Regions from separate parts of the Homo sapiens genome. Here all the other regions are linked to region 4. The links come from fine-mapping of genetic effects on gene expression. A gene starts in region 4. Each other region holds a variant in brackets. All regions are shown on one strand. Distances are from middle to middle. Region 1 overlaps LRIG1 (leucine rich repeats and immunoglobulin like domains 1). Region 2 overlaps SLC25A26 (solute carrier family 25 member 26). Region 3 overlaps LRIG1 (leucine rich repeats and immunoglobulin like domains 1). Region 4 holds the start of LRIG1 (leucine rich repeats and immunoglobulin like domains 1). Region 5 overlaps LRIG1 (leucine rich repeats and immunoglobulin like domains 1).

The links.
Region 1: its variant is fine-mapped to the expression of LRIG1 in whole blood (TOPMed, PIP above 0.99). The same link has a PIP of 0.9 or more in T cells.
Region 2: its variant is fine-mapped to the expression of LRIG1 in whole blood (TOPMed, PIP above 0.99).
Region 3: its variant is fine-mapped to the expression of LRIG1 in whole blood (TOPMed, PIP above 0.99). The same link has a PIP of 0.9 or more in lung and microglia.
Region 5: its variant is fine-mapped to the expression of LRIG1 in whole blood (TOPMed, PIP 0.97).

The regions. Positions count from the first base shown.
Region 1 is chr3:66,391,761-66,395,879 of GRCh38, reverse strand. LRIG1 (leucine rich repeats and immunoglobulin like domains 1) reads left to right here. Exons shown (of 19, transcript NM_015541.3): 12 at 1,677-1,840. Among named protein-coding and RNA genes, the nearest start is that of LRIG1, 110 kb to the left of the region's middle. RefSeq lists an enhancer at 2,223-2,272. The variant C/T (reference allele first, on the strand shown) is at 1,689.
Region 2 is chr3:66,300,948-66,305,066 of GRCh38, reverse strand. The region is part of intron 5 of SLC25A26 (solute carrier family 25 member 26); the gene reads right to left. Among named protein-coding and RNA genes, the nearest start is that of SLC25A26, 82 kb to the right of the region's middle. The variant G/A (reference allele first, on the strand shown) is at 2,494.
Region 3 is chr3:66,382,462-66,386,580 of GRCh38, reverse strand. It overlaps LRIG1 (leucine rich repeats and immunoglobulin like domains 1), which reads left to right. Exons shown (of 19, transcript NM_015541.3): 13 at 280-600; 14 at 2,309-2,590; 15 at 3,180-3,599. Among named protein-coding and RNA genes, the nearest start is that of LRIG1, 120 kb to the left of the region's middle. RefSeq lists enhancers at 339-438, 2,885-3,384, 3,385-3,886. The variant C/T (reference allele first, on the strand shown) is at 2,337.
Region 4 is chr3:66,499,101-66,503,219 of GRCh38, reverse strand. LRIG1 (leucine rich repeats and immunoglobulin like domains 1) reads left to right here and starts at 2,198. Exons shown (of 19, transcript NM_015541.3): 1 at 2,198-3,030. The coding sequence starts at 2,813. RefSeq lists silencers at 1,829-2,488, 2,509-2,648, 2,689-2,768, 2,789-2,998 and enhancers at 2,101-2,601, 2,602-3,102.
Region 5 is chr3:66,412,604-66,416,722 of GRCh38, reverse strand. It overlaps LRIG1 (leucine rich repeats and immunoglobulin like domains 1), which reads left to right. Exons shown (of 19, transcript NM_015541.3): 5 at 1,660-1,803; 6 at 3,709-3,852. Among named protein-coding and RNA genes, the nearest start is that of LRIG1, 86 kb to the left of the region's middle. The variant A/G (reference allele first, on the strand shown) is at 2,410.

The DNA.
Region 1 (4,119 bases), 110 kb after region 4:
GTGCCCTCTTGCTGGGGAGCTGGAGGTGCTTCTGACAGCGGAGAGTTCTCCATCCAGGCTGAGTTCCCCCCATGCCTGGCGCAGCCAGCCCTGACCCCCATGCAGGGTGCACTCCTGGGAGCTGCCCTCCCCAAACACTGCATGGGAATTGACCATTTCCTCAGGGATGGCCGTTACAGCCCTTCCGCCACCTGCAGTGACTCCACAGTAGGACAGCCCTCCAGATGGCTCTCAGCAGAACGCTACCTGCCCGTGAAATAAAAATGCAAACTCTCATGCTGATTTTAAGATCTAATATGGGCCAGCATCCCAGTTATAATGGCCTTGAGATAAGTTATTTCTGTTTTTGGAAAAGCACTTTCCAAAATTATAATTATTTTAATAAGATGCCCAACTCATCTAGGGGTGATGGGGAACATGAGGAAGAGTGGATTTTACTTAATTTAGCCTTGGGTCATCTGCTTACACTTCATTCTTCCTTGCTGTGACAGTTTCTCTGCTCATTAGAAATCTGGAGAGAAACAGAAGAAAATGGAAGGCCAGTCCATTTGGTTGCTTTGTTGATGTCTGAGGACAGTGGTGGGTGGAGAAGGCAGCCAAAGTCGTGCTCTTGGCCTGCATGATGTTTTTGGAATTTCTGCGCATACCTGTGCCTCCTGTTTGTCACCATGTACCAGAGACAGTGTATTGCAGGGAAGCCTGTGTGCTCTCTTTCCCAGTCTTCCCTTATCGTGGGCCAGCCATCATTCTTTAGCTCACAGCTCTGAGGTCTTCCAGGAACAAGGCAGCTAGACTCTTGGTTGACTTATCTTCAAGTGACTCCTCAGGAAGGAATGTCCGCTGAGATGGCGATTCCGATTTCTGTTTAAAAAGCTTATCCTTAGTTGCTGAGAAATGAAAAAGAAAATATTCTCTGTTTTGGTTGGAGCCCCACAAAGCTAAAGTTGTGCATTCTCATGCTCCCTGGGCAGTGGCAATTAACTAACAAGCACTATTTAGGGAGCAGAGCCGAATTCTGCCGGCCCCCTGAAGAATACTGGTGCAAAGATCAAGGCACAAACAAGAGGGTGGCACAGTGACGGGGCTTATTACATTTGGAAGTAAGAAAACATGCAGCTTTGCCAAATGGAAAAGGAACAGCCATGAGGCAAAAGAGCCCTCCTCGGAACTTGTTGCAGAATTTGGATCAAAGTCTCAGGCCGAGTTTGGAAGCTCCAAGTAGTTTATCAGGAAAGTGGGAAAAACCAGAGGGGGGATGGTGGCAGCATAGCACTGTTGGATGTATCAGAGGTCAGGAGAGGTCAGAAGGCAGCCCAGGGTCACACAGGAACAGTGTCTGTCCCAGAACATGGCATGGATAAGCTCCACGTTGCTGCTGCTCCAGTTGCGGTCCTTGGGTCAGCAGCCCCAGCATGATACGTGAACTTGTTAGCAGAGTCGTGGGTTCCACTCCTGACCCACCCAATCAGCAACTGCATTTTTTCAAAATCTCCAGGTGGGTTATATGCACTGCCCTGGGAAATTGGAGAGGAAGTGTGAGAAAAACCATTTCCCCCTTCCAGCTTGCTGATGTTCACTTGAGAAGCTGATTGGAGGCGACTGATCATTGTGTGTGTGAAGGGAGTGTCCCTCCTTTGCGGCTGCACCTGAAGCATCCACTGTTGTGTTTCTTTCAGCCATATCAGCAG[C/T]GACAGCTTCCTGTGTGACTGCCAGCTGAAGTGGCTGCCCCCGTGGCTAATTGGCAGGATGCTGCAGGCCTTTGTGACAGCCACCTGTGCCCACCCAGAATCACTGAAGGGTCAGAGCATTTTCTCTGTGCCACCAGAGAGTTTCGTGTGCGGTAAGACTGTCTTTGTAACTTTTTCTCTCCTTCATGAAGGACAAGGAAGCCAGGAGGTACTCTTCATTATGGGAGTAATTCCTGTGATCAGAGTAAACCCCAGCCCGTGGTTACAGATCAGCTGCTGGATGCAATTTATTTCTTGCTGAAACCACACACAGTATTTACCGTAGAGTTGCCTCATTATGTGGTTCTTGGAGGACATGCATTTAATCAGAAGGGAGTATAAGTTGGTTCAGTTACAAATCAGAATAATCAGTTACAGGAAGATAGTTCTGTTGTTTCAGAAGGGCTCTGGTGCCCGGGTTTAGCTGCGAATGTACTCCGCGTACGAGGCTGGCGTTTTAATGTGTGTTTCTTTCCGACCCCAAGAATGAAAGGTTAAATACAGGAAGAACAAGTCTCAGGAGAACAGTTGCTGTAGTAAAAATAATTCCTTGATGTTGACTTGTACTCTTGCTGTTTCTCCAAACCACTGAAATCTGCACTTGCAGCTTTACATTCTTTTTGCCTTCTGATTCCTGGAGCGTAGCTCTTGCCATCTTTTTGACTGGGAGTCGGGATCCAAGTTTGGTTGCAGAGAGCACAGAAAATGCTGAACAGCTGAAAACACACACGCAGGCTAGCTCAGACAGGACTGACACAGGCTCACGGTCAGGAAGACATGGTCAAAAAATGAGATGAATTTTGAGTTTTTCCTGTTTGCTTGCTCTAAGCAGGAGCAAGAGTGGGATTCCCAGGCCTGACTGGAACTGCTGGGCAGGTGTTAAGTCCCTCCTGCCTTTTGTGCTCACTGGTCTCCCTTGAGCCTTGAGATCCCTGCTGTGAGGATCCTAACCAGGAACTCACCCATCCATATGGCAACCCTTGTGGGCCACTTCTGTCTCCTACTTTCTGGCCATAGCAATAGCCATTGTGCCTGCTGGAGTAGCCAGTGTGCCTGCTGGAGGCAAGATGTGTGTGCCCTCTCCATGCATCCACCCCTACCTTCACCATCACCACTTTTGAGAACAGGCCTGCTGAACTTCCTCTGGATCCAGACCAGGGACACGTCTTAAACCCACTGCGAACATGGCAGCAGCTCTCCAAACTGACTTTTCATACCGATCTGTCTTATGGAGCCTTCTGTGTGGAATCTAATGCTCGCACAGCTCCATTATCCAGGCACAAAATGGCTGTATAATCCATTGTTCATTGGCCCATTGTCATCAAGTCCTTGACCCTTAAATTGTTTATAGACCTCCCTCAAATAAAGCTTTCCATCGCTCCCTCCCCTTTCCTGCCATAGGGCAGGCTTTCCCTCTGGGTGAGCCAGGTAGGACTTTGGTAAGTTCACCTAGCCCCCAGCCTGTGGCCCTGGCATATTCTGGATTGCAAGAGTTGTTTATTTCACATCTGTCATCCCCACCCCCACATTTTAGCTCAAGCTTCCCCCCCTCTAAAAACGTCAGGTGTTAATGGGAATCATGAAAACACTTGGCAGAAGATCAAGGTTTCAGGCTTTATGGGAGTCTCCCACTCCTTTTTTAAAAACGGAAACATAAGCACTCCACATCCACTAGGACAGCTAGAATCCAAAACTCAGATAATAACAAGTGTTGCTGAGGATAGGGAGAACCCTCCTACACTGCTGGTGGGAGTGTAAACTGGGGCAGCCACTTTGGAAAACAGTCTCGGCAGTTCCTCAGTTCAACATCCAGTTACGACATGACCTGGCAGTTCCACTCTTGGGTGTATACCTAAGAGAAATGAATGTATATGTTCACACAGAAACTTCTTCATGAATGTTCATAGCAGCATTATTCATAATGGCCAAAATATGGGCACAACCCAGGTATCAGTGGATGACTGGATAAACAAAAGGTGGTATAGCCATACAATGGAATATTCATTAGGCTGTGAAAGCAATCAGTAGTCCTGCAACATGAATGAACTTTGACAATGTCATGCTAAGTGGAAGAAGTCAGCCACAAAAGACCATTAGATTATATGATTCCATTCATAGAAATGTCCAGAATGGGGAAATCTGTGGAGGTAGAGATTAGGTTAGTAGTAGTTTAAGGATGGGGAGGGATGGAAAGAGAGGGGTAATAGCTAAAATGTACAGCATTTCTTTTTGAAGTGATGAAAATGTTGTAAAATTGACTGTAGTGATGGTTGCCCATATTGGTGAGTATACTAAAAACCATTGAATTGTATACTTTAGATGAGTGAGTTGTAGTGTAGATGAAGTATTCTCAATAAAGCTGCTTTTAAAAAGAAATATAATTTATATATCA
Region 2 (4,119 bases), 200 kb after region 4:
TCTAAGTGTAAAAATTCAGTTCCTAGAAAACTGTCAGTTGCTAATAAAGAATCTCAGAACTCTAACAAGTGATACTACCGTGTCATAAAAAATAAATCACAAGATACACTTTTTGGTGACAAAATCTTTTGAGTTTCTTAACATTATGGGGTAAAATGGTTGTGAGTTTATCAGGTCTTTTTGGCCCTATAAATCATAGTACATGTTATAAGTCATCCTCTTAATACTAATGTATCAATTTTTATCACAATTCATTTGGTAAACAGGATAATTCTGCAAAGTATTGAAAATTGCAAAGTTCTGAGCCAGCAACAAATTAGATTTCCACCCACATGGTGGTTAATCAGTCCCATGTACAGAGAGAAAGGAAACTGGATATAATGATTCTAAAAGCATTTTAAAGAATGTATTAGTGAACAACGAATCCTCAATGCCTGACACCTCGATGGTTTCCTGAAAGCACCAGTGAACCATGTAGCGTATATCCCAGTTAGCATGTTCAGCAATCAGGGGTTGTTACAGAGCTTACCAGTATAACAGCATGTATACAAGCCACACACAACAACTCACAGAAGCTCACAAGCCTCCCCACACCTTTGACTCTAATCCTCCTCCTGCAAAAATAGAAGAAAAAATATGACAACAGACATGTGAACACAAAACTGAAACTGAACAGAAAAGGGAAGATATTAGCTTAGATATGAGACATAAGAAAAAGTATGCTCCAGAATCTTTTTAAATCAAGAGGCATTGTGGGAGGCCCCCAAGATTCCCACTCCCTGATGTACCCGCCCTGTATAATCCTCCCCCATCCAGTGTGGATGGGACCGTGAACAGGACAAAGACAAGTCCTGTGACGAAGTTACATTTAATCAGAAATATGAATGGATTCTGCAGATTTAATTAAGTTCCCCCATCAGTTGGTTCTGAGTTTATCAAGAGGGAAATTATCGTGGATGGGCTTGACTTCAAAGGTGAGTTCTTAGAAAAACCAGCCCCTTCCTAACAAGATCTGAAGTGTGAGAGATTCTCCTGCTGGCTCTGAAGAAATAAAATTTCATGTTGTAAAAGGGCCTATGGAGGGGGCCACATGGCAAGGACCTCAGAGCAGCCTCTGGAAGTAAAGTGTGGTCACCATCCAATCGCTAACAAGAAACAGGATCCTCAGTCATACTGCCACAAGGAAATGCCATCTGCCAACCGCCCTGTGCATTTGGAAGAGGACCCTAGCCTCAGATGAGATCACAGTCCCTGCAACACCTTGACTGTCACTGTGTGAAACAGTGAATGGAGAACTCAGCCACGCGGTCCTCAGACTGCTGCTGTAGAGACCCATGAGATCATCAATATATGTCACCTTAAACCACTAAAGTTGTGGTAATTCATTACACAGCAACAGAAAGCTAACAATCATCTACTGCACCTCTAGACATTCCCCTAAGTGATCCTGATGTTACATGACACTTGAAGTTACTCATTTCAATGGAGTGAAAAATGTGGGACATTCTAGTTAAGTGATCTTGACTGGCAGTTAAAGTTTCAGAAGTCCTACAATATTTTCTGACTTACAGCCTAATCTTACCTGGAAGGCATCTTGCTGATTATCTGATCCAGCCACCTCACTTTTAGCCAAGACTAAGAGAGGGAGCTAGCCTCCCCAGGTTCACAGGGCTAACGAGCAGCAGAGGACGAGCCACAGCCCAGTTCCTCCAACACAGTTAGCTGTTCCCAGAAGTCTTTCCTTAAAGGTGGCTGCGCCTTAAAGATACTTGCAGTTGTGCTTGACTAGAGAGGGGGAGAGAAGTATATCTCCTCTCTGATACTGTAGTAAAATGGCCATAAAATAAATACTGAATGCTTTAGAAAAGTGGAGTACAAAGCCAATATTTCAAAGGATTCAAAGACTAAAAGCAGTATTAAAGATGTCAACAGTGACTAGACCATGATAACTACTATATTATAATGTCTTCTGCATCTTTCAACCTCCCAGGGGACATTTAAATTGTCACTACTCACGGGAGGTGCTCCTGGTATCTAGTGGGTAGAGGCCAGGGATGCTGCTACACAGCCTGGAATGCAAAGGGGGGTCCCCATGGACACAATCCACAGCCCCTTAAACTCTGCTCTAAGGCATCAGTTATCTTTCTTTATCCCTGCTGACTCCCTAGCACTGAGACACTGAACACATGGCGTGCACCACCTGTGCTCCCTTACACACTCAGAAGGCAAAGCTCTCCCATATCTCAATTTTCTTTGGCTTGGGCTTTAATCACTGTTCTTTGGTTTGAACTTAAATATGGGCTAACCTTTTCACCAAGTTGTATCTAGCTCTAATACACAAGCACACCTGCCCAGCTCAATGTTGCTTCTGACAGACAAAGCCAAAACACTATTATGCATACTTGATTTTAACTAATGTATGTTTTACACATGAATCAAAATCTGGTGACCTATCAGCAAAGGCCTAGTGGAGTATGAGTGTGCAGAACACAT[G/A]GTGGAGAACCGCTGCTTACTCTAAACTGCTGGCAGCAAATAAGTATTACATGACCCAAAAAAATGATATCGATGACTAGAATGAGAAAAGTGTCAAAACAACAGGAAGTGGCAGGGACTCTGATGACATGGAGAGCAGTTTCTGTCAAAACAAGCAGCCGCTACTCTGTTCTAGACAATTACTGCCATGCAGAAATGTAGGCCCACTATGACCAGATACCCAGATTGTCCAAGAAAACTTGGATAACTGGAGTTGTATATGAAACCACTCAATTTTAACATGTTAGCTTGTAGTTTGCAAAAACCTTGAGTCCAACATTTTGGGCCACGTCTTTGAAATTTATGGTCTAGAGATTGTAAGAGCAAATGAAGAGGTGCCAAGTGGGCAAATTCAGAGGGAGGAAGGTTCAGGATATACTTCTGCACAACAGATGGAGTATTAGAGACACTGGGGATAAAGCTAAGTGATAGGCCTTGGATGAGGCCAACAAGTTTCAGAGGAGCTGCTAGTGATATTATCATCATTATCATCACAACAATAATCATAAATTATAACATTTATATAGGACTGTATTTCAGGCACTGTCCTAAGCACTTCATATGCAGGAACACATGTAATTTTCCCAACAACCTTATGAGGTTGGTATTATTGTTACTCTCATCTTACAGAGGAACAAAATAAGTCAGTTTAAATAACTTGCCTAAGGCCACATGGCTAAGTACTGGAGCTGGGATTTGAATCCAGATAGGCTACCTTCAGACTCCATGTTTCTAATTACCCCCGTCACAATTCTAATGCTTGTATCTGTAGGCTTTTAATTCTGTATCTCTCTGTAACTACATATAAAATGTGTTTCATCCACCTAAGTTCTGAATGGTAACATGTAGATAGGAAAAGACTAAAACAATGCTTAAGGTACTCCGTCTAAACACGTATAGAAATGGAAGCATTTTTCCCAAATGAAAATGTTAGCCCCTGCTCTCTATAAATTATGTTGGCCTAGTAGGATTCAGTCCCTCTTGTTAAAGTTTTACTTTCTAATGACATTCTTGGCTTCTGCTTACATAAAAATACTAACAAACAGATGCAGAAGTCACACTCTCCGGCATGGAAGTCAAAAGGCATAGACGAATTGGTTGTGCCCTCCAACCAGAGTGGGAACTGTGGCAAACAATTCTAACGCCCATCAAAGATGCAAGGCATGAACTTGTCCTACACACTGTGGCAGCATTATTACTAAATTCCTTAAAAAGTCTGTATAAAAATCTGTAACAACTTGGCAAGCAAAATTACACTTCAAAGCAGCTAGTATGTAAATTAACTTCACATTTCACTTCATTTTAAAACAAGAGAAATTGCTATAATAAATTCAGGGAAACTGGCAATTTTGAGTTGAATACTAAAAAGAAAAGTAAATTTTCACCTTTACATGAGATCTACTATTTTTTATTCTTCATGAACCCTATCTTCCATTTCAGAATCCAATTATTTGAGGACACAATGAGTTCTATCATCATTTTATTCTGGCAGGTCAAACACTGGTCCAATATTATAAAAATGCATAGACTTTATTGAGACATAAAAAGCAACAAAGTATTTTCAATGCCGTAATTCCCAAATCTGCT
Region 3 (4,119 bases), 120 kb after region 4:
GCCGGCTGGCTGGTTTGAGAACTGAGAAGTGGTGGGTTAATTTCTAATCAAGGAGTGTGATCATAAAGGTGATCAGTACTCACAGACTTCTAATTAGATGAGGTCAGATGTCCATGGTGCAACTCTTACGGCATCTGGTTGGTGGGGCTGAGGATGCACAGGGACCTCAAGCTCTGGTTCCTGCTTGGTGTCTGTGTCAGTTTCTGTTAGCATGAACAGCAGCTGGTTCCTCTGTGTACCAAGAACCCAGCGCTTTACAGTTGACCCTTCTCTCCCCAGATGACTTCCTGAAGCCACAGATCATCACCCAGCCAGAAACCACCATGGCTATGGTGGGCAAGGACATCCGGTTTACATGCTCAGCAGCCAGCAGCAGCAGCTCCCCCATGACCTTTGCCTGGAAGAAAGACAATGAAGTCCTGACCAATGCAGACATGGAGAACTTTGTCCACGTCCACGCGCAGGACGGGGAAGTGATGGAGTACACCACCATCCTGCACCTCCGTCAGGTCACTTTCGGGCACGAGGGCCGCTACCAATGTGTCATCACCAACCACTTTGGCTCCACCTATTCACATAAGGCCAGGCTCACCGTGAATGGTATGGAAACACCATCTTTGTTATAGTACCAGAATCCTACAAAGCACACTCCTGATTGCCCTTTCAGCTTTCCATGTAGAGATGACTGAGACAGGACACACACATGCTTCTGTGGGGCACTGTTAAATCCTATTGTTGCCTGGGTTTGCCCCAGAGCAAGTTTTGCAGATTTCAAGGGTTATTCACAATGAGTTACTTGTTTTTGGTGAGTTTTAAAAATCTAGTTATTGGCCGGGTGCTGTGGCTCATGCCTGTAATCCCAGCAGTTGGGAGACTGAGGTGGGCAGATCACTTGAAGCCAGGAGTTCGAGACTAGTGTGGCCAACATAGTGAAACCCCGTCTCTACTAAAAATACAAAAATTAGCCAGGTGTGGTGGCACATGCCTGTAATCCCAGCTACTTGGGAGGCTGAGGCACAAGAATTGCTTGAACCCAGGAGGTGGACGTTGCAGTGAGCCGAGATCACTCCACTGCATTCCAGCCTGGGTGTCAAAGTGAGACTGTCTCAAAAACAAAACAAAAACTAGTTATTAAGTCAAATTGTGGAGAGCTAAGCCTTGTTTTGTCCAGTTCTTATCCTCTATAAGCCAAGAGATCTGGCTTCCAAATTCCAAATACCCCTTAGCCTGGGGAAGCTGCTGTTCTTTGAGTAGATGGCACAGCATTGGAGTCAGAGGCTAGCTACTGCTCCAGAGACTGTGGAGTGCAAGGCTGGTGTGAGCCCTGGCCTGAAAGACACAGTGTCCTGGCAGTTGACAGGTTTTTACTCATTAACCAGCCTTGGAGCTTGTCAAGGGGACCATGTGTTATTGTGTGTTTGGAGGAGGGGGGTGGGGAGTAGATAGCTTGAAGAGTTTACTGTCCCACCCCAGTAACCTAATGGGGTTATCCTGATTACTAACTCTCTAGTTAAAAAGAATTGGCTTGAGAATCATCAGAATGGTGGATCTGCTTTGCTCTTTAAGCCCCCACAGATCACAGCGAAACACCTTCTTTACCACACTGTAGTGGGGTTGTCTTGGCTTATTCCAAGTCCTCACAGCTTCCGAAAGACTCAGCTGTTTGTTAGACTCTCCCCAAAATTGACGTTGACAGGAACTCTGGTGGTGCCTGACACGTGGCTGGATGCGTCCCACTCTGTCAGGACATCGATCTTTAGGCTGAGCAAGCTAGCAAGCTGAATGCTTCCTGCCTGGGTATACGGCAGTGGGCAGGAACAGCCTGGGTGAACAACCATCCAAATGGATGAGCCATCCCATTCATCCCATGAACACCCATCCAAACGGATGAGCCATCCCATTGCTCTCCCAAGGTGGAGGCATGCCCACCTTCCCTCTGTAATTCCATCTCCACAGCCTCTCTCTTGGTGGGTAAAGCAGGCAAGCATCAGGCCTACCTAGTGTGGATGGGCACCCCCTGCAACTCCCGTATAGGCACTGCCATGTAGAGTAAAAGCCTTTGCTTTGAAGGGACTATAGCCAGCCTAGGGTGTACAATGCAAGGCTGATGGGATGGAAGTGTTCCAACTGTGGTGGGAGAAGCTGGGGGTTCCTGATTCACAGGTGGCAGGAGTGGTCCTGGGCAGACATTGGGAGAAAAGAAGTGAACTGGCACTGGGCACAGTGACAGGTAGGTGTTTGCCAGAGGACTTCCTGGTTTTGCATCTAGCTGTCCCGTAACCCGACCCTGTATACGTATGTTTTCCAGTGTTGCCATCATTCACCAAAACGCCCCA[C/T]GACATAACCATCCGGACCACCACCATGGCCCGCCTCGAATGTGCTGCCACAGGTCACCCAAACCCTCAGATTGCCTGGCAGAAGGATGGAGGCACGGATTTCCCCGCTGCCCGTGAGCGACGCATGCATGTCATGCCGGATGACGACGTGTTTTTCATCACTGATGTGAAAATAGATGACGCAGGGGTTTACAGCTGTACTGCTCAGAACTCAGCCGGTTCTATTTCAGCTAATGCCACCCTGACTGTCCTAGGTTTGCCTATTGCTCTACTGTGTGTGTGTGTGTGTGTGTGTGAGCGAGAGAGAGAGACTCTCAAATGCTCTGTGTGGCCAGGGGTGGTATGCGTTGTGGGCCTTTCGACCCTGTTTGAAATTTGGGGCTGCTTTTTGAGTTGAGTTAATTTTTCTTAAACAAGTGTTTCTATCTCTTTAAAAGAAATGATAGCTGGTGAATTAAGAGTCTTCATAGGGTTTAGCTACAGAACATTTTAAGAATTGGACAGGATGGATGTGGGCTTGGTCAAGAGCTACAGAACATTTTAAGAATTGGACAGGATGGATGTGGGCTTGGTCAAGAATAAGGACACAGGCCTGACACAGGACAGTTAGGGAATAGCAGGGGCTTTTGTCAGCAGAGGTTCACTGTCCCTGTGGAAGCCACTCCCAGCATGGAGATGACTCAGTCAATGAGTTGAAGGGTCTTCTCCAAAGCTTGCCACTCTGAGACAGAATCTCAGATGCATCTCATTGATATGTTGGATTGTCCGTTGTCCAGAAGACCGGGCAGAGCCAGAGCAACGGAGGCCCTGAGAATGACTAAGATCTCTGTTGCTCTCTTGTAGAGACCCCATCCTTGGTGGTCCCCTTGGAAGACCGTGTGGTATCTGTGGGAGAAACAGTGGCCCTCCAATGCAAAGCCACGGGGAACCCTCCGCCCCGCATCACCTGGTTCAAGGGGGACCGCCCGCTGAGCCTCACTGAGCGGCACCACTTGACCCCTGACAACCAGCTCCTGGTGGTTCAGAACGTGGTGGCAGAGGATGCGGGCCGATATACCTGTGAGATGTCCAACACCCTGGGCACGGAGCGAGCTCACAGCCAGCTGAGCGTCCTGCCCGCAGCAGGCTGCAGGAAGGATGGGACCACGGTAGGCATCTTCACCATTGCTGTCGTGAGCAGCATCGTCCTGACGTCACTGGTCTGGGTGTGCATCATCTACCAGACCAGGAAGAAGAGTGAAGAGTACAGTGTCACCAACACAGGTCAGGCCCTGCCAGCGGAGCTGACTTTCAAGGAGGGAGGAATGGCAGTGATGCTGGGGAACTGGGCCGGGTTCCAGTGGCTTTTGAAAGAATTGCACTGTGTTCAGAACTCCTGAGGGTTTAGTCCCACTAATTCCATTTTAACTTTGAGGAACTTAACCTTAAACAGGAATACTCTCAAATTTAACCTTAAACAGGAATACTCACAAATACAAGTAACTGACGCACCATGCAGTTTTCCCTCTCCTTGCTAACTCAGAGGCCGCCTATGCACAGGCCCTGCTGCCACGTAGTAGGTTGTTCCTGAAACAGTGCGGTACTTCTGTGAGCCCCGGCTTTCCATCACTGGTCTCCACTTCTTGTGGCGTCTGGCATCTGCTGGCTGCGCTCTTCACGCTGGGTGTAGAGTAAAGCTGAGCAGGCTCTGGGAGGGCCTGTTGCGTACATGGACTCCATGTCATCTCTCTGCACAGCGCTGATGGTCGTCACTGGGAGGATCCCCTTTCTGAGCTTGACAGTG
Region 4 (4,119 bases):
GCTGTTTTATTGTGGGGTGGGGACAGGGAGGATCTGACAGTTTCATTTCAGGAAACGGCTGTGGGTATTCTGCATCAAATTACTGTTTTGTGTTCTTTGTGTAAAACTTAAACACTGACTGAGAGGACTTCATAAATTTAGGGTCTTTTTAATTCCATTCCCACTGCTTATTATTATTATATTTACCAAAAGGGATAGAACAAAAGGACATATTTCTTCTCGTCCAGATGGAAGGTGTATGTTTATTTGGATTACATATGAAACATAAAAGCTGGTTAAAGCTCTGGGTGGGATGGGTCAGGTGCAGCATTTTTCTGATAATATTTCTTGGGAATTAGATTTGAATTGATTTACCCACATATTTGAGCACTGCTTTGGGCATCACTGCTGAGATCATGCAAAATTAAACAAGAAAAAAATGAGGCGCAATGAATTCAGAAGGGGAAGAAGGAAAAAGGGGAGGAAGGGATAGGAAGATCACATTTTGGCTAAAGAAAAGAGGTGATCTTATGGCTGAGGGAAAGTTTAACACATTTAGTGCATCTCAATTAAAGCAAACCTCTTAGATTGTGTCGAAAATGGAATAAACCCTTTAATTTTTTTTTTTTTTTTGCCTTTTTTCCCTAAGGTTCAACTTCTCCTCTTTACCTCCCACCCCACCCCACTTCCATAAAACACAACTCAGATTTAATGTTCTGGAGCAAATGTTTTTCAACAGACTTGACCTGCTTAATCTTCCTGACAATGTGCGCAGTTATGTTAGTAATTTGCATACTCTTGGGAAGGGATATGAGACACTAGCAAACCAAAACGCCCAGAGGGCAGCTATATGTTACAGTGGTAATCTTTTTCTTTTTTTCTCAATGTGTGTATGTCTGCTTAATGTTACCACGTACTATCGTAACACACTACTACTATGGTCTGATCTTTAAGAGCAAAAGTTAGAAGCTTTGTTAACTATTATTTCTCCTTTAACTCTGTCTCTTACGAATACACAATGGCTTCTTGAAAATTATCTTAAAAAGACTCTGATTAAAACAAAAACCCAATGACAACAACAAAGCAACCCCTTTATCAAAGGCTGCAGCATTTCTAGAAGTACCCTTCAACTCACTAGCTGGGAAGGAGAGTGCACTTTTTTTTTTTTTTGAGACGGAGTTTCGCTCTGTCACCCAGGCTGGAATTCAGTGACAATTCAGTGACAAGTCTCTGCTCATTGCAGCCTCCGCCTCCGGGGTTCAAGCAGCTCTCCTGTCCCAGCCTCCCGTAGCTGGTATTACAGGTGTGCACCACCACACCTGGCTAATTTTTTTATTTTTCATTTTTAGTACAGACGGGGTTTTACCATGTTGGCCAGGCTGGTCTCGAATTCCTGACCTCAGGTGATCCGCCCGCCTTGGCCTGCCAAACTGCTGGGATTACAGGCGTGAGCCACCACTCCTGGCCGAGGGTGCACCTTTGAGACTAGGTTTCTGCAGCACACATTCATTTTAGTAATCAAGGACATATTGCTGGATTTAGGACGTGAAGAACAAGTCAGGAGCAGATGCTCCAGGCTGCTCGAGGAGGAAGGGGACCACGCCTAATGAAATAACCAAGGATGTCCCAGTCAGGAAGAAATGTGTTAAGTTTTAAACCTGTGTCTTCGCTTTTGGAAGGAACCTGGAAAACGGACGCGGGTTTGCTTCTAATCTGCAGTCCTGCTTGCAGCCTGAGGAGGACGTAAAAAGCCTTGGGGCCAGACAGCCCCAAAACGGGGGCGTTTTACCCTCTTAACTTTCTCTCCCCTTCTTGACGCAGAGGGCGTATCTTCACGCCTCCTTTCCCCAGCCCGCGTTCCCGTTCTCCAACAACAACCTGCGTGTCTCCTTTAAGAGGCGGGGGCCGTCCCTCCCTTTCTCCTCCCAGTCTCCCGCCCTTCACACCTTGGGTGGGAAAAGAGTGTGGGGGCGGGGTAGCCGGTGAAGCGGGAGGGGCGGGATCACAGCGAGCGCTCCAATGGCCCTCGAGGCTGGCCACGGTGGACTCCGGCAGCCAATGAGCAGCAGGCGGGGAGGCGTGGCGGGGCGCTGTTGCAAAGCATCCAACGTGGGCCAGCAGGCGGCCGCGGAGCGCGGAGCCTAGGGGGTGTGTGCGGGCGAGCGGCCGGGGGCGGGGCTTGGGGGACCGGCCGGGGCTGGGCCGCGGGGAGGCGAACAGCAAGCGGCTGATTGTTCGGCTGCGAGGTCGGCGGGACTCTTGCTGCGCGGAGGAGCCGTGCGGAACCCGAGGCTGCGCGCGCGCGCGCGCTCTCTGGCCGCGGCGTGGGGACAGCGAGGCGCACTGGGGCCTCCCAGCGCGGGGCCGGCCGCGCCGTCCAGCCCGAGGTCTACGGCTTTGCGCTCCGAGCCCAGAGGAAGATGCCTGCCGGCACCGAGCTCGGGCTGCGGGGCTGAACGCCTGTCTTCCAGGCGCAGCGGCAGCACTGCCCTCGGCCGGTGTCGGTAGCGGCACTCGGCGTGCCCCGGGCGGACGAAGAGCGCAGGCTGGGTACACCTTGCCCGAATCGGCGGAGTTCGCAGCTAGCGCGGGCGGGCCGGCCGGCCCGGATGGGCGCGGGGTTTGCGGCCCCCGCCGGGTGCTCCGGAGCGGCCCGGGCACCGGGGGCACGCTGAGTGCCGGAGCCGCGGCCGCAGAGAGAACTTGGGGCGGGGGCCATGCCCCGGTGCGGAGTCTAGAGCCGAGCGGAGCGCCCCGCGGGCCCGCCCGCGTCTGCGGCCGTTCGGGTCCTCACAGTCCCCGCGCCCGGAGTTCGCAGCGCGCTCCAGACAAGATGGCGCGGCCGGTCCGGGGAGGGCTCGGGGCCCCGCGCCGCTCGCCTTGCCTTCTCCTTCTCTGGCTGCTTTTGCTTCGGCTGGAGCCGGTGACCGCCGCGGCCGGCCCGCGGGCGCCCTGCGCGGCCGCCTGCACTTGCGCTGGGGACTCGCTGGACTGCGGTGGGCGCGGGCTGGCTGCGTTGCCCGGGGACCTGCCCTCCTGGACGCGGAGCCTGTGAGTGCCGCCCTTTCCGCCCTCTCTGCGCCCCGGGGCTCTGTCACTTGGGGATGGAGCGGCGGGGGTTCGTACTCAGGGAGGGGGTGCGGACTGGGTTGTGTGTGTGGAGTTGTGCGTGCTTGTGCGTGTTGGAAGACTGTCAGGTTGGAGTGGCGGAAGGGAGATTCTGCGTGGAGGTCCGGGGGAGTAGGCGTGCGAGAGAGCCTGGAGAAGAAGAGCGTGCCTCGTGGGGTCTGGAGACGAGCGAGCGTGGGTCGTAGAGATTTGGGGGTTAGCCAGCACGCGTCGTGCGGGCCATCTGGGGGTGAGTGAGTGGGAGTCTGGAGCTGAGTGTGTTTGCGGGTGGGTGGGTGGGAAACGTCTGGAGAAGAGTGTGAAGAAGTCTGTGGGGGTATGTGGGTGCGTTTCCTTTTCCTCTCCTGTAATCCAACTATTTGGTGTCTGAGCTCCTTGGTCTTCCAGTGGGTAATGAATGAAGGTGACTGTTGGGTCCAGTCTTTCGTTTACATTATTTATTAGTTGATAGTGTGTGTAGCCGTCTCCTGATCCCCGAAGACCGTGGTGGCCTGACTTGCCTCTCTGTGCGGGGCAGAAGGCAGTCTTCCCCCGAGGACCCCTGAGTTAGAGGGCTTTGACAGTTCCTGGCGACCTGTGAGTGCTGGGAGTTTGTCCTTTTACGCCTGTTTGGCATTTTACGGAACTGTGTTCCAGACCCTTCCTGTGTGTTCCCTGGGGCCCCATTGGGCTTGATGATCCAGTGGGGTGGGGCCCACCCTCAAGACTCTCTCCTCCATAAATGGTGCAAATGAGTTTTGGAGAAGTGCTGCTTCAGGAGAGGGTGCCAGGGGCTTGGCTGATTTAAGCTGTTTGTTTCACCCGAAAGAGGTTCTTTTCTGTGCTGTCAGGATGTGGGCTTATTAGGACTTAGTGGGACACTTCTTACAGGAGATTTGACAGGAAAAAAAAGGCATTAGACTTCTGTGTAAACATGGTAGAATAGAATAGTCTTCTTTTACTTCTAACAAATCTGGTGCATGAGTCAAATCCCGTTCAGTTATGGGTAATTAGCATCTCTGTAGAACCATT
Region 5 (4,119 bases), 86 kb after region 4:
AGGGCTTAGCTTATCAGTGCTTATCTTTCTAGTGTCATGCACTGTAAAACAAGTCATTGGGTTTGTTTGGGGGAGGGCAGTTACTCTATTATGTGGGTTTTCAGCACCTTTTAGATTTGTCTGTTTCTCTTACCCATATTAATGTCCCATCTCACACACAATGGATGGTAGACAGGAAGGAAAAAAAGTTAAAACCTACTTAATCAACTACTTGTTGGTAGGAAAAGTGTTACTCTGGGAAAGAAACTGCAACCCCAGGCTAAAGAGACGTTTTCCAATTCCAGGTGAGTTTTCATTCCGTGTGTCATTACTGTTCCAGAGTTAACTTTGGAACGCATTCGCAAGGCTGGTTTAGGGGTCATTGTGACCCATCTTTTCAGGGAGGGTGAGGTTTGGCACATGGATTTTCCAAGTAAATACTGCAAGAAGAAGAGTGATTTCTTTCTTAGCCTGCATTAGGGCGCCAGAGTTGGGAACAGGAGGCCTTGGCTTTTGTGAAGCCTCCAGTGTGGGCCCTCAAAAGGTGTCCACGTGACACCACTTTGCTTGGGACAGAGAAACCATAACTGCTACACTAAGTTGCTCTGACCTCTCCCTGCACAAAAGTGGGAGGGACTTTCTATTTTGGCAGCTATTGGGTGATATATCTTCATCACACAGGCTGTTCTTTAATCTGAGGTGTTGAGAACAAACAGTCCAGCCCCATTTGCAAAGAATCCTTATGTGCCTTGTCCTAGGCCACTATCTGCTGGAGAGACAAAAAGTGCCTTGCTCCCTTCCACCCTCTGTGGCAGAAAATCCTCTCTGGTCTTTCTCCTTTTCACTTAGGCCAGAAAAAGCAGCATTTGTTTGGGGAAGGCAGAGGAGAGGTGTTGGAAACCACTTCTCACAGGAATGCCATATTGTTCTTCCTTGTACTTTCTTTTCTTTTTTATTACTTGATATAATTTGCATACAGCAAGATGCACAGATCTGAGCTGCAGACTTCTGTGCCTTTTGAGAAGCGGTGTCTGCCTTTTTGTATTGTCACGGGAGATGCCCCGACTTAATCACGCTGTAAGTGTAGGTACCATGACATATTGCTTGTTTTACGAAGGGATTCTGCACAGGTCTCTTCAGCTAGAGTGTTTCTTTGAGGCATTTACAATTACAGAAATGAATTGGTTTATACATATGTGTTATGTAGTTCATATAGCAAGACCCACCTCAAAACTAAAGGCTATTTCTCTAAATTATTAAATTAACACTGACCTTGCCTTTCAGTTGATTTTCTGCTTTCTAGGAGTTTTCACGTCAACCTTGGGCACTGGGTGGTGAGAAGAGTCCTGCAGGTGGCTCCTGACGCAGGGCTGGTGTGTCAGTGGGCATGGGGGTGTTTGACTTTCACTCCCACCCTCTTGGGGTGGCCCAGCAGCTTCAAGGACAGTATGCTTTCGACTAAATCGGCCTTGCCCTCAGGGCTTAGGTGCACAGTCCTAACACCTGCATCTCTCTAGCTCCCCATCCAAAGCCTGTGGCTGATAAACATCTCACTGGAAACCTGTCCCTCTGGTGTCTTAACTCATCTTCCCAACTCAGACCCAGAGAGGTCTGGTGTCTATAATGAAATGAGGAAGGCCTTTGACCAACCACCACATTTTCTTTTCTGAATCATTCCAGCAACCTGGCAGGCAATCGGATTGGCACCCTGGAGTTGGGAGCATTTGATGGTCTGTCACGGTCGCTGCTAACTCTTCGCCTGAGCAAAAACAGGATCACCCAGCTTCCTGTAAGAGCATTCAAGCTACCCAGGCTGACACAACTGTGAGTACAGAAACCTACACTTTAATTAAGGCTAGCCAAACTTTATGGAGGCCAGATTTCCCCAAGGACCTCGTACCAAACGCCACCCTTTCCTTGCTCCATTTGGTAAAGCTCTCCATAAATTACCATTAATGGCAGCACCTCATAAAAGCAAATTCGGAGCTGGGTCTGGTGCTGTGGCTGCTTCAGGTTGCTGAGAAAGACATCCACTGAGGTCGCTTTTCTTCCCTGATGTTTTCCAAAATGGAATCAGGAGTCCTGCTGCTTAGCTGATGCTGGCTAATGCTGAGGCTGCATGGGTTTGGGTTCTTATTTATCTTAGATGTTTTTCTGTATTTTTTTAAGATACCCGTAAAATCTGTACCTTGGACATGGTGGTGTCCGACACTTCTTGAACAGTTTGAGAGGAAGTTAGTGTAGCTGGAGTTAGTAAGCAAAAGACAAGCCTTTGTCTTCATATCTTTAATCTTACAAGGTAGTTGATTTATTATTATTATTATTTATTTATTTATTATTATTTTTTTTTGCGACAGTCTCGCTCTGTCCCCCAGGTGGGGTGCAGTGGTGTGATCTCAGCTCACTGCAAGCTCCGCCCCCGGGGTTCAC[A/G]CCATTCTCCTGCCTCAGCCTCCAGAGCAGCTGGGACTACAGGCACCCACCACCATGCCTGGCTAATTTTTTGTATTTTTAGTAGAGATGGGGTTTCACCTTGTTACCCAGGATGGTCTCGATCTCCTGACCTCGTGATCCGCCTGCCTTGGCCTCCCAAAGTGCTGGGATTACAGGCATGAGCCACCGCACCCGGCCGATTTATTATTTTTGTAAACAATTTAATTGTTTAGTTTACTGATGGAAGGCTGAGTACCCTTCTAGAAGGCAGAGTTTTAGATTCAAGTAAAGCTCTGTTAACCAGAGCCTGACGAAGGACTTTTTTTCCCTGATTTTTTTTTTTCCTGTGCCCTCTTTTTAGCAGAAGAATGTATTTCAGGAAAATAAGACAGTATTGGAAATTTTGTTTCAACAAAACAAAATAATTGTCGAGGGCCAGGTTGGCGGCACGACGGGGTGTGCCTGGCTCTCATCCTACCTGGGTTTCACCTCCCCTGGGTGGGGAGTCCTAGACTTTGCCATTTTCAGTCTGTGGAGAAGGTCTCAGTGATTCCTGAGAAGGTTTGTGTGGGGCAGCATCATGAGACACTGCAGAAATATTTGGGGAAAACCAAGGGCTTTCTGGCTGCTCTGCCTCCCCTTCCCGCAGGGGTGCTAATGGATCTGGCCCACCCAGATTCCTGACATCTTTTGGTGAACTGAGGCTTTGTCATACTGGGGCTAGAAGCCAAGTGTATATGACTTGTGGGGTGTCTCTACCCCATCTCCCCCTGCCCCCATGTGCAGTAACTTCTCTCCATAGTGGAGATGCTGTGAAATGCCCCCAGTGGAAAGTGTTATTGCCATTTGATACATAGTGGTTTGGTTTTTCCTGGGTTGAGGCATGTGGTGTGGATTTCTGTTGCTGAGCTCAGAGATACCTCACATAAGACATTCACCCCTTGAGTCATACCCACGTCCTCACTGCAGAGTCACAAATGGCACTGGTGCTACTGGGGGAGGAGACGTGAGCACACACGCGTTCTCTTCTGTGCAGCTGTGGGCCAGCCTCGGAGCTGGCTGTGGAGAGCTGGCCTCACTCACCCCTCTTGCCTGCACTAGGTGTGGTCAGGTGGCAGCATCAGTGCCTGCATGGCAGCCGAGACACATGGTGGGCTCCCCTACACATCCTGGCTTCCCAGGGATCCCTGCACTGGGATTTCTCCTCTGGCTTGGAAACTTAGCCAGGACTGCTTCAGAATGGTTGTGGGTGGGATATGCACATAAGACACTCTGACCCTGCTGGCTTCATCTCTTTAGGGACCTCAATCGGAACAGGATTCGGCTGATAGAGGGCCTCACCTTCCAGGGGCTCAACAGCTTGGAGGTGCTGAAGCTTCAGCGAAACAACATCAGCAAACTGACAGATGGGGCCTTCTGGGGACTGTCCAAGATGCATGTGCTGTAAGTGCGGACCAGGTTACTGGCATTGCTAAGGATTGCTGTGCGGTGTGGTGTGATGTGGCGTGTGTGTGTGTGCGCATGCATGTGCGCACCAACACCAACGTTGCTGTGTGTTGGGTGTGTGCGCCCACACCAGCATTGCTGTGTGGTGTGGGGTGTGTGTGCGTGCGCGTGTGCACGTGCGCGCCCACACCAGCATTCAGCTGTGCACTGGGCATGGAGTGGGGCACCAGTGCCCAGCCCCTCTCTCCTGAAGGATTCTTCAAG